Regions from separate parts of the Homo sapiens genome. Here all the other regions are linked to region 1. Evidence: fine-mapped expression QTL. A gene starts in region 1. Each other region holds a variant in brackets. All regions are shown on one strand. Distances are from middle to middle. Region 1 holds the start of TTLL1 (TTL family tubulin polyglutamylase complex subunit L1). Region 2 has its middle 5.5 kb from the start of TTLL1-AS1. Region 3 holds the start of TTLL1-AS1 (TTLL1 antisense RNA 1).

What was found.
Region 2: its variant is fine-mapped to the expression of TTLL1 in whole blood (INTERVAL, PIP 0.97).
Region 3: its variant is fine-mapped to the expression of TTLL1 in cerebellar hemisphere (GTEx, PIP above 0.99). The same link has a PIP of 0.9 or more in anterior cingulate cortex, cerebellum, cerebral cortex, hypothalamus, nucleus accumbens and prefrontal cortex.

What each region holds. Positions count from the first base shown.
Region 1 is chr22:43,087,791-43,090,545 of GRCh38, reverse strand. TTLL1 (TTL family tubulin polyglutamylase complex subunit L1) reads left to right here and starts at 1,155. Exons shown (of 11, transcript NM_012263.5): 1 at 1,155-1,269. RefSeq lists silencers at 181-240, 989-1,283, 1,048-1,387 and an enhancer at 989-1,283.
Region 2 is chr22:43,031,729-43,034,483 of GRCh38, reverse strand. No RefSeq gene overlaps it. Among named protein-coding and RNA genes, the nearest start is that of TTLL1-AS1, 5.5 kb to the left of the region's middle. RefSeq lists an enhancer at 1-437. The variant T/C (reference allele first, on the strand shown) is at 1,340.
Region 3 is chr22:43,038,043-43,040,755 of GRCh38, reverse strand. It overlaps TTLL1 (TTL family tubulin polyglutamylase complex subunit L1), which reads left to right. Exons shown (of 11, transcript NM_012263.5): 11 at 851-1,240. The coding sequence ends at 980. It overlaps TTLL1-AS1 (TTLL1 antisense RNA 1), which reads right to left and starts at 2,171. Exons shown (of 3, transcript NR_125362.1): 1 at 492-2,171. The variant G/A (reference allele first, on the strand shown) is at 950.

The sequences.
Region 1 (2,755 bases):
CACTTTACTATGCCAGGCCCTAACCACGTCTTGCAAGCCTTCACTCATCTCCTGGGTTTAAGGTGAGAACACTGTAGTCGGAAGCCTTGGGACTTCTCAAGGCCTCACAACCAGACAGCAGCTGAAGGGTATGAATTGGCAATTTGGACTCCAGATAAGTGTTGGTTCCACTAGATGGTGCCAAAAGTAAATGATGATGCGCTGAATGTGCTCTGGGCCTGGGAGGCGGTTGTGTGGGAGATTATAGGAAGTGATGTTAGCAAAGCTCCAATCATCACTAAGAAAGCACACCACCACCCCTCCTGAGAGGCAGCAGCATGAATGGTCAGGTGTCCTGGGTTCAAAGCCAGACTCTGTCACTTACAAGTTGCACAAGTTTGCATAACTCTTTAAATTGATGAAATTAAAAATGAATAATTGTATAGAGAATTCGAGGTAACACAGGTCTATAACGAGAATAATAAACGTCTTTTTTTTTTTTTTTTGAGGCGGAGTCTTGTTCTGTCGCCCAGGCTTGAGTGCAGTGGCACGATCTTGGCTCACTGCAACCTCTGTCTCCCGGGTTCAAGCGATTCTCTTGCCTCAGCCTAGCCAGGATGGTCTCGATCTCCTGACCTCGCGACCCACCCGCCTCTGCCTCCCAAAGTGCTGGGATTACAGGCGTGAGCCACCGAGTCTGGCCCAGATAAACACTTTTTAAAAAAAATTATTTTATTTTTATGTTATTATTATTATTATTATTTGAGATGGAGTCTCGCTCTATCGCCCAGGCTGGAGTGCAGTGGCGCAACATCACCATTTCTTCAGATAAGGAAGCCGAGGTAGAAGGGGTAGGAGAGGCTAAACAGCGGATTGAGACCGAACCCAGGATTCGGACCTAATCATCACACCGCTCTACCTTTCTTTTTAGACTTAATCCCGTGCTCCAGACCCTTCTCAATCTCCTTTCTGGGCCCCGAGAGGGTGGACGGCCTGGCATTTCCTAGGATCCAAGCCCTGGGCATAGCGGCCGCCCGAGGTATGGAGCCCAAAGGAGCCCCAGGCAAGTCTGACTCCGGAAATAGTCGCAGCGCCGGCGGTCGCGTCCTGGGTTGCCAGGGCGCCGCCCTGGAAGTAGAGTGCAGCGCGGGGCGGGGCGGGCCGGTGCGCCTGGCAGTCGGCTGCGTACTCCTGCGAGCGCCGGAGAGGGGCTGGAGGCGGGGCGAGGGCGCGGCTCGAGGCATCCCTGCAGGGCGCTCCTCCGAGTCCCTCGGCGCTCTGAGCCCACAGGTGAGGTCCTGTCCCCCAGGCCGCCGCCTCCCGGGCACCGAGGGTGTGGCTGCGCGCGGGCTGGCGAGTGCGCATGGGTGAGAGAGTGTGGGCGCCAGTGTCTACGCGGCTGCGAAAATGCGGTTCAGATGCTGCTTGCCGGATCCGCGTCCTCCAGGAAGCCCGCGCTAACCACCGTGCCTTTCTCCGTCCGCTGAGTTCCTATGACTTACCTCGTGCTGTCCGACTGTTGCAATTGCATCATTATGTTTATTATTTGTTATCCCAGACTTTCATTGTTCCTACACGTTTCCCATTCGTTTGCAATCTGTGTTGTTTCTGTTGGCATCTTTTGCAGGGCGCAATGTACCTGTGGAGAGAACTCAGGGCAGGAGACAAGAGCCTTGTGTCTTCCCTCTAGATGACTGGACCAAGACATTTCCCCTCTCTGATTCCCTATCAGCTAAGAGGGCAGGGCGGGGTAGTCATCCTTTTCCATAGAGTAGCTGGGGCATTAGAGGAGATTAATTCTGGAAGTGAAAGTATCTTATCATTGTTAGCCCTTTTGGCATTTGCAAAGCAGGTTCTTTGCTCAGGAAACGTTTGATGAGCACATTATGGTGCCGGGTTGTGGCGGTACAAAAAGATGGGCCCCGGCCGGGCACGGTGGCTCACGCCTGTAATCCCAGCACTTTGGGAGGCCGAGGCGGGAGGATCACGAGGTCAGGAGATCGAGACCATCCTGGCTAACACGGTGAAACCCCGTCTATACTAAAAATACAAAAAAAAAAAAATTAGCCGGGCATGGTGGCGGGGGCCTGTAGTCCCAGCTACTCGGGAGGCTGAGGCAGGAGAATGGCGTGAACCCGGGAGGCGGAGCTTGCAGTGAGCCGAGATTGCGCCACTGCACTCCAGCCTGGGCGACAGAGCGAGATTCTGTCTCAAAAAAAAAAAAAAAAAAAAAAAAAAAAAAGATGGGCCCTTCTCTGCCCTCAAATTACAGACACTGGTAAGCAGTCACTGTGGAGCATGGTACTGTCACCCAGTGCGGGCGTGGAGATGGACAGTGACAATACCGCTGTGAACGAATGCCCTGCTCAACATGAAGTCATCACTGACATTGTTATTACTTTATTTATTTATTTATTTATTTTTAGACGGAGTCTTGCTTTGTTGCCCAGGCTGGAGTGCGGTCGCTCTCGGCTCACTGCAACCTCTGCCTCCTGGGTTCAAGCGATTCTCCTGCCTCAGCCTCCCATGTAGCTGTGATTACAGGCACGCGCCACCATGCCCCGCTAATTTTTTAAATTTTAGTAGAGATGGGGTTTCGCCATGTTGGCCAGGCTGGTCTCGAGCTCCTGACCTCAGGTGATCCGCCCACCTCGGCCTCCCAAAGTGCTGGGATTACAAGCGTGAGCCACTGTGCCTGGCCATATTCTTGGTTTTTTTTTTTTTTTTTTGAGACCGTCTCACTCTGTCACCCAGGCTGGAGTGTGCAGTGGTGCGA
Region 2 (2,755 bases), 56 kb after region 1:
TTGATCTCCTGACCTTGTGATCCGCCTGCCTCAGCCTCCCAAAGTGCCGGGATTACAGGCATCAGCCACCGTGCCTGGCCTAGTTTTGTATTTTTAGTAGAGATGGGGTTTCACTATGTTGGCCAGGCTGGTCTTGAACTCCAGACCTCAAGTGATCCGCCAGCCTCCATCTCCCAAAGTGCTGGGATTACAGGCATGAGCTACCGTGCCCGGCTTCCAGCCAAATGTTTTTGAGTGATGGCATCAGTGTTCTTAGAGATGTGCCTCTCTAAGGATGACGGAGCTGGTGAGAGGCTAGAGGGAGATCTGGCAGTGCAGGCCACAATGTGAACTCAGGCGGTGCCCTAGGGACGGGAGGAGGGGAGTTGTGCACAGGGAGCCTGCACACCGGGTGGAAGGGGATCTGCAGAGACGAGCAGTTCTCAGTGGCCCAGTAGGGGGCGTGTGTTAAACGGGGTTTGAGCCCTGAATGTAGAAGGAGGTAAACTGCAAAGCTGCAGTAACAAACGTGCTTTTCAGAAGCTGTTCAGAAAGGCCACGCTACTCATGGTTATGAATAATGCTGCCTCGAGGCCATGGCTGAATAGCAAGAACGTCACCAGGCAGCTTCCCTTCCTGCATCTTGTACTGGTTAAAATGAAATCAGAACTTTTTGTTTTTTTGGGACGGAGTCTTGCTCTGTTGCCCAGGCTGGAGTGCAATGGCGTAATCTTGGTTCACTGCAACCTCCACCTCCCAGGTTCCAGTGATTCTCCTGTCTCAGCTGGGATTACAGGCGCCCGCCACCATGCCCAGCTAATTTTTGTATTTTTAGTAGAGATGGGGTTTCACCATCTTGGCCAGGCTGGTCTTGAACTCCTGACCTGGTGGTCCACCCACCTTGGCCTCCCAAAGTGCTGGGATTACAGGCGTGAGCCACCACGTCCAGCCTGATAGCTCTTTTTTTTTTGAGACAGGGTCTGGCTCTGTCATCCAGGCTGGAGCGCAGTGGTATGATCACAGCTCACTGCAGCCTTGACCTCCTGGGGTGATCCTCCCACCTCAGCCTCCCAAGCAGCTGGGATTACAGGTGCATGCTACCACACCCTGCTGATTTTTATTTATTTTATTTTATTTTGTTTTTTGAAACAGAGTCTCATTCTGTCACCCAGGCTGGAGTGCAGTGGTGTGGTCTCGGCTCACTGCAACTTCTGCCTTCTGGGTTCAGTCGATTCTCCCACCTCAGCCTCCTAAGTAGTTGAGATTACAGGCACATGCCACCACGTGCGGCTAACTTTTGTATTTTTAGTAGTGACAGGGTTTCACTATGTTGGCCAGGCTGGTCTCAAACTCCTGACCT[T/C]GTGCTCCACCTGCCTCGGCCTCCCAGGGTGCTGGGATTACAGGCATGAGCCACCGTGCCTGGCTGCTAATTTTTTATTTTTTTGTAGCGACAGGGTCTCACCATGTTACCCAGGCTGGTCTTGAACTCTTGGCCTCAAGCAATTGGCCTGCCTTGGCCTCCCAAAGTGCTGGGATTACAAACGTGAACCACTGCTCCCCTGAAGTAGTATCTCATTATGGTTTTGATTTGCATTTTTTCTGACAGCTGATGATGTTGAGTATCTTTTCATGTGCTTATTGGCCATTCGTATGCCTTCCTGGGAGAAACTGTTTTGATTTATTTATTTATTTTTTTCTTGAGACAGGGTCTTACTCCATCACCTAGGCTGGAGTGCAGTGGCACAATCACAGCTCCCTACAGCCTCAACCTCCCAGGCTCAGGCGATCCTCCCACTTCAGCCTCCTGAGCAGCTAGAACTACAGGCATGTGCCACCATGCCCAGCTAATTTTTTGTATTTTTTGTAGAGATGGGGTTTTGCCATGTTGCCCAGGCTGGTTTCAAACTCCTGGGCACGGCTGGGTGCGGTGGCTCACGCCTGTAATCCCAGCACTTTGGGAGGCCGAGGCAGATGGATCATGAAATCAAGACCATCCTGGCTAACACGGTGAAACCCCGTCTCTACTAAAAATACAAAAAATTAGCCGGGTATGGTGGCAGGCGCCTGTAGTCCCAGCTACTTGGGAGGCTGAGGCAGGAGAATGGTGTGAACCCGGGAGGCAGAGCTTGCAGTGAGCTGAGATCACGCCACTGCACTCCAGCCTGGGTGACAGAGCGAGACTCCATCTCAAAAAAAAAAAAAAAAAAGAAAAACTCCTGGGCTCACATGATCCGCCCACCTTGGCCCCCCAAAGGATTACAGGCAGGGGCCACTATGCCCAGCCGCATTTTTAAAGGGGTGATTTTTGTACTGCTCATAGGAAATCATGACTCCTCTCTAATTCTGTGGTAGAAGGCATCATTGCCTCTTCTATAAAGCCTTTCCTGGTGACTCTAGTCTCCAATGGTCTCTCCTTTCTCTTACATTTTATTATTATTTTAAAAAATATTAGAGATGGGGGTCTTGTTATGTTGCATAGGGTGGTCTGGAACTCCTGGGCTCCAGGGATCCTCCCATCTCAGCCTCCTGAAGTGCTGGGATTACAGGCATGAGTCACCACGCCCAGCCTCTCTTGCATTTTAAAGCATAAATCAGATTCTATCAGAGCCCTAATGCCCTCCAAAAGCCTCCCCTGGAACATAAATAAAATCAAGTTCCTCGCCTCTCTGGCCTCCCCCTCCACCCCCTCCCTTCTGCCCTTGCTGGTTTTGCTGGAGACACAGCAATCTTCAAGCGTCATGCCCCTCCCTGCCTCAGGGCCTTTGCATGGCAGGCC
Region 3 (2,713 bases), 50 kb after region 1:
AAGAAAATGGGGGCCAGGCACGGTGGCCCACGCCTGTCATCCCAGCACTTTGGGAGGCCGAATGGGCAGATCACCTGAGGTCAGGAGTTCGAGACCAGCCTGGCCAACATGGGGAAACCCTGTCTCTACTAAAAATACAAAAATTTGCTGGGTGTGGTGGTGGGCACCTATGATCCCAGCTACCTGAAAGGCTGAGGCAGGAGAATCGCTTGAACCAGGGAGGTGGAGGTTGTAGTGAGCCAAGATTGCGCCACTGTATACCAGCCTTGGTGATAGAGTGAAACTCCATCTCAAAAAAAAAGAAAATGGGGAGGGGTGGCGTGGGTCACACTGGCAGAGTCTCTAGCTGAGTGTGCACCGTGGGGCCTCTCTGCCCTGGCCTCCACTGACCAGTGCTCATGTACCACTCCCATCTGGAATGGAGTTAGTCCCCCCAGCCTGCAGGTGCCTTGTGTGAAGCGTTTCCAGCCAGGCAGTCTCACCTCACTTACCCTGGGCTGGTTCTGTGTCACCTCATGCATGTTGCCTTTGGAGTCATTGCCATATTTGACCTGGTGACCTGTATAAAATGTCAGCTTCCGAGGGGAGACCACTGTCCACAATAACAACAAGGTTGTACACATAGGCAGGCTGGCCTTGGGGAGCATTTGCTGGGCTGCGAGAGCCACCTGGCAGGCAGGTGGGCTGGAGCCAGGTGGGAGGTGGGCGGGAGCCAGCAGGAGTCGCGAGGGTGGGGCCCCCTCAGGCCGCTTCTCTGGGTGATGTCATATTTGCCACACAGCAGCCTGGTGGCCCTGCCTGTTGCCTTTGAAAGAGAGCCTGCCGTGATCCTGGCTGTTTCTGTCTCCAGGTATGATGAAGAATTGGCCCAGGGTGACGGGGCTGACCGGGAGCTGAGAAGCCGTCAGGGTCAGTCTCTGGGGCCCAGAGCAGGCCGATCGAGAGACTC[G/A]GGGAGAGCGGTCCTCACCACCTGGAAGTGAGTCCCACCTGGACCTTATCAAAACTACTCACTCCACCTGGGCCCCTGCTGAAGCCCTATTTTGAAATTTCCCTTTTGTAGAGCTTTTTTCCTTTCCTAAGCCCTGTAAATAAACGAAGGCACTTCTTTGGAAGGTTATGGAGTCTGTTTGACTAGTGCTAAAGGAAACAATTCATGCGGATGTATAAAACTCGCTCTTTTTTTTTTAATTTTTAACCTAAGCAGAATTTTCATATTAAAAACTCACTTTTTTGACAGAAAGTAACAGCTTCAAGCATGTAATTTGATGTGTCACAAGGTTTAAACATTAAAAAAACTTTACACTAAATTAAAAACAAAACAAATCTTATAGACTCGTCCTGCCACGAGAGAGGAATGTATTTAACTGACGGCTCTTTTAGTTGCGTTTCTTTTTACTTGACTGCGATTTTTTTTTTTTTTCCCGAGACAGAGTTTTGCTCTGTCGCCCAGGCTGGAGTGCACTGGCACAATCTTGGCTCACTGCAACCTCTGCCTCCTGGGTAGTATTTCTCCCACCTCAGGCTCCCAAGTAGCTGGGATTACAGGCGTGTGCCACCACACCTGGCTAATTTTTGTATTTTTAGTAGAGATGGGGTTTTGACCATGTTGGGCAGGCTGGTCTCAAACTCCTGACCTCAGGTGATCTGCCCACCTCGGCCTCCCAAAATGCTGGGATTACAGAGGTGAGCCACCACGCCCAGCTTACTTGACTGTGATTTTGAAGAAAACAGGCAACTAGAAATATTCCTCGGTAATTTATCTTTACAAAGGCCTTTGTCTAGGTGCTCCCAGGAAGACCTGTTTTCTTTTCTTTTCTTCTCTTTTCTTTTTTTTTTTCTTTTCAGACAGGATCTCGCCCTGTCACCCAGGCTGGAGTGCCGTGGTGCCATTGTGGCTCAACTTCCTGGGCTCAAGTGATCCGCTCACCTCAGCCTCCCGAGTAACTGGGACCACACAGGCACACACCACCACCCCCAGCTACTTTTTAAAGTTTTTTTTGTAGAGACAGAGTTTCACCATGTTGGCCAGGCTGTTCTCGAACTCCTGGGCTCAAGCGATACTCCTGCCTAAGCTTCCCAAAGTGTTGGGATTACAGGCATGAGCCACCACGCCTGGCTTCAAAAAGACCTGTTTCTACCACTTCGGTTTTGTGGATGAGTCTGTTGTAAATGGAACTAGATGAGCACAGACAGGTCCGGCTGTGTGCCTTTTATGACGTCAGCAGCTGGGTTTGCTACAGGGAAGCGCCGTGGGCAGCCAGGAGCTGTGGGAGGAGCGATGGCTGCGGGACAGGCTGCGCGAGCGTGGTTGTTCCCATGCAGTCTCCCGGTAGCCCGGTGACTTACAGGAGTGTATGGAGAGGACCTGAGTTGGTGGGTAGATGGACAGATGCATTTGAGTAATAACTCATGAGTTACAGTGCTGTTCTTAGGAAGGGTCTTTTTTTTTTTTTTTTTTTTTGAGGTGGAGTTTCACTCTTGACACCCAGGCTGGAGTGCAATGGCACAATCTAGGCTCACTGCAACCTCCACCTCCTGGGTTCAGGCGATTCTCATGGCTCAGCCTCCCAAAGAGGTGGGCTTACAGGCGCCTGCCACCACGCCCAACTAATTTTTGTATTTTTAGTGGAGACGGGGTTTCACCATGTTGGCCAGGCTGGTCTCGAACTCCTGACCTCAGGTGATCCTCCCGCCTCCGCCTCCCAAAGTGCTG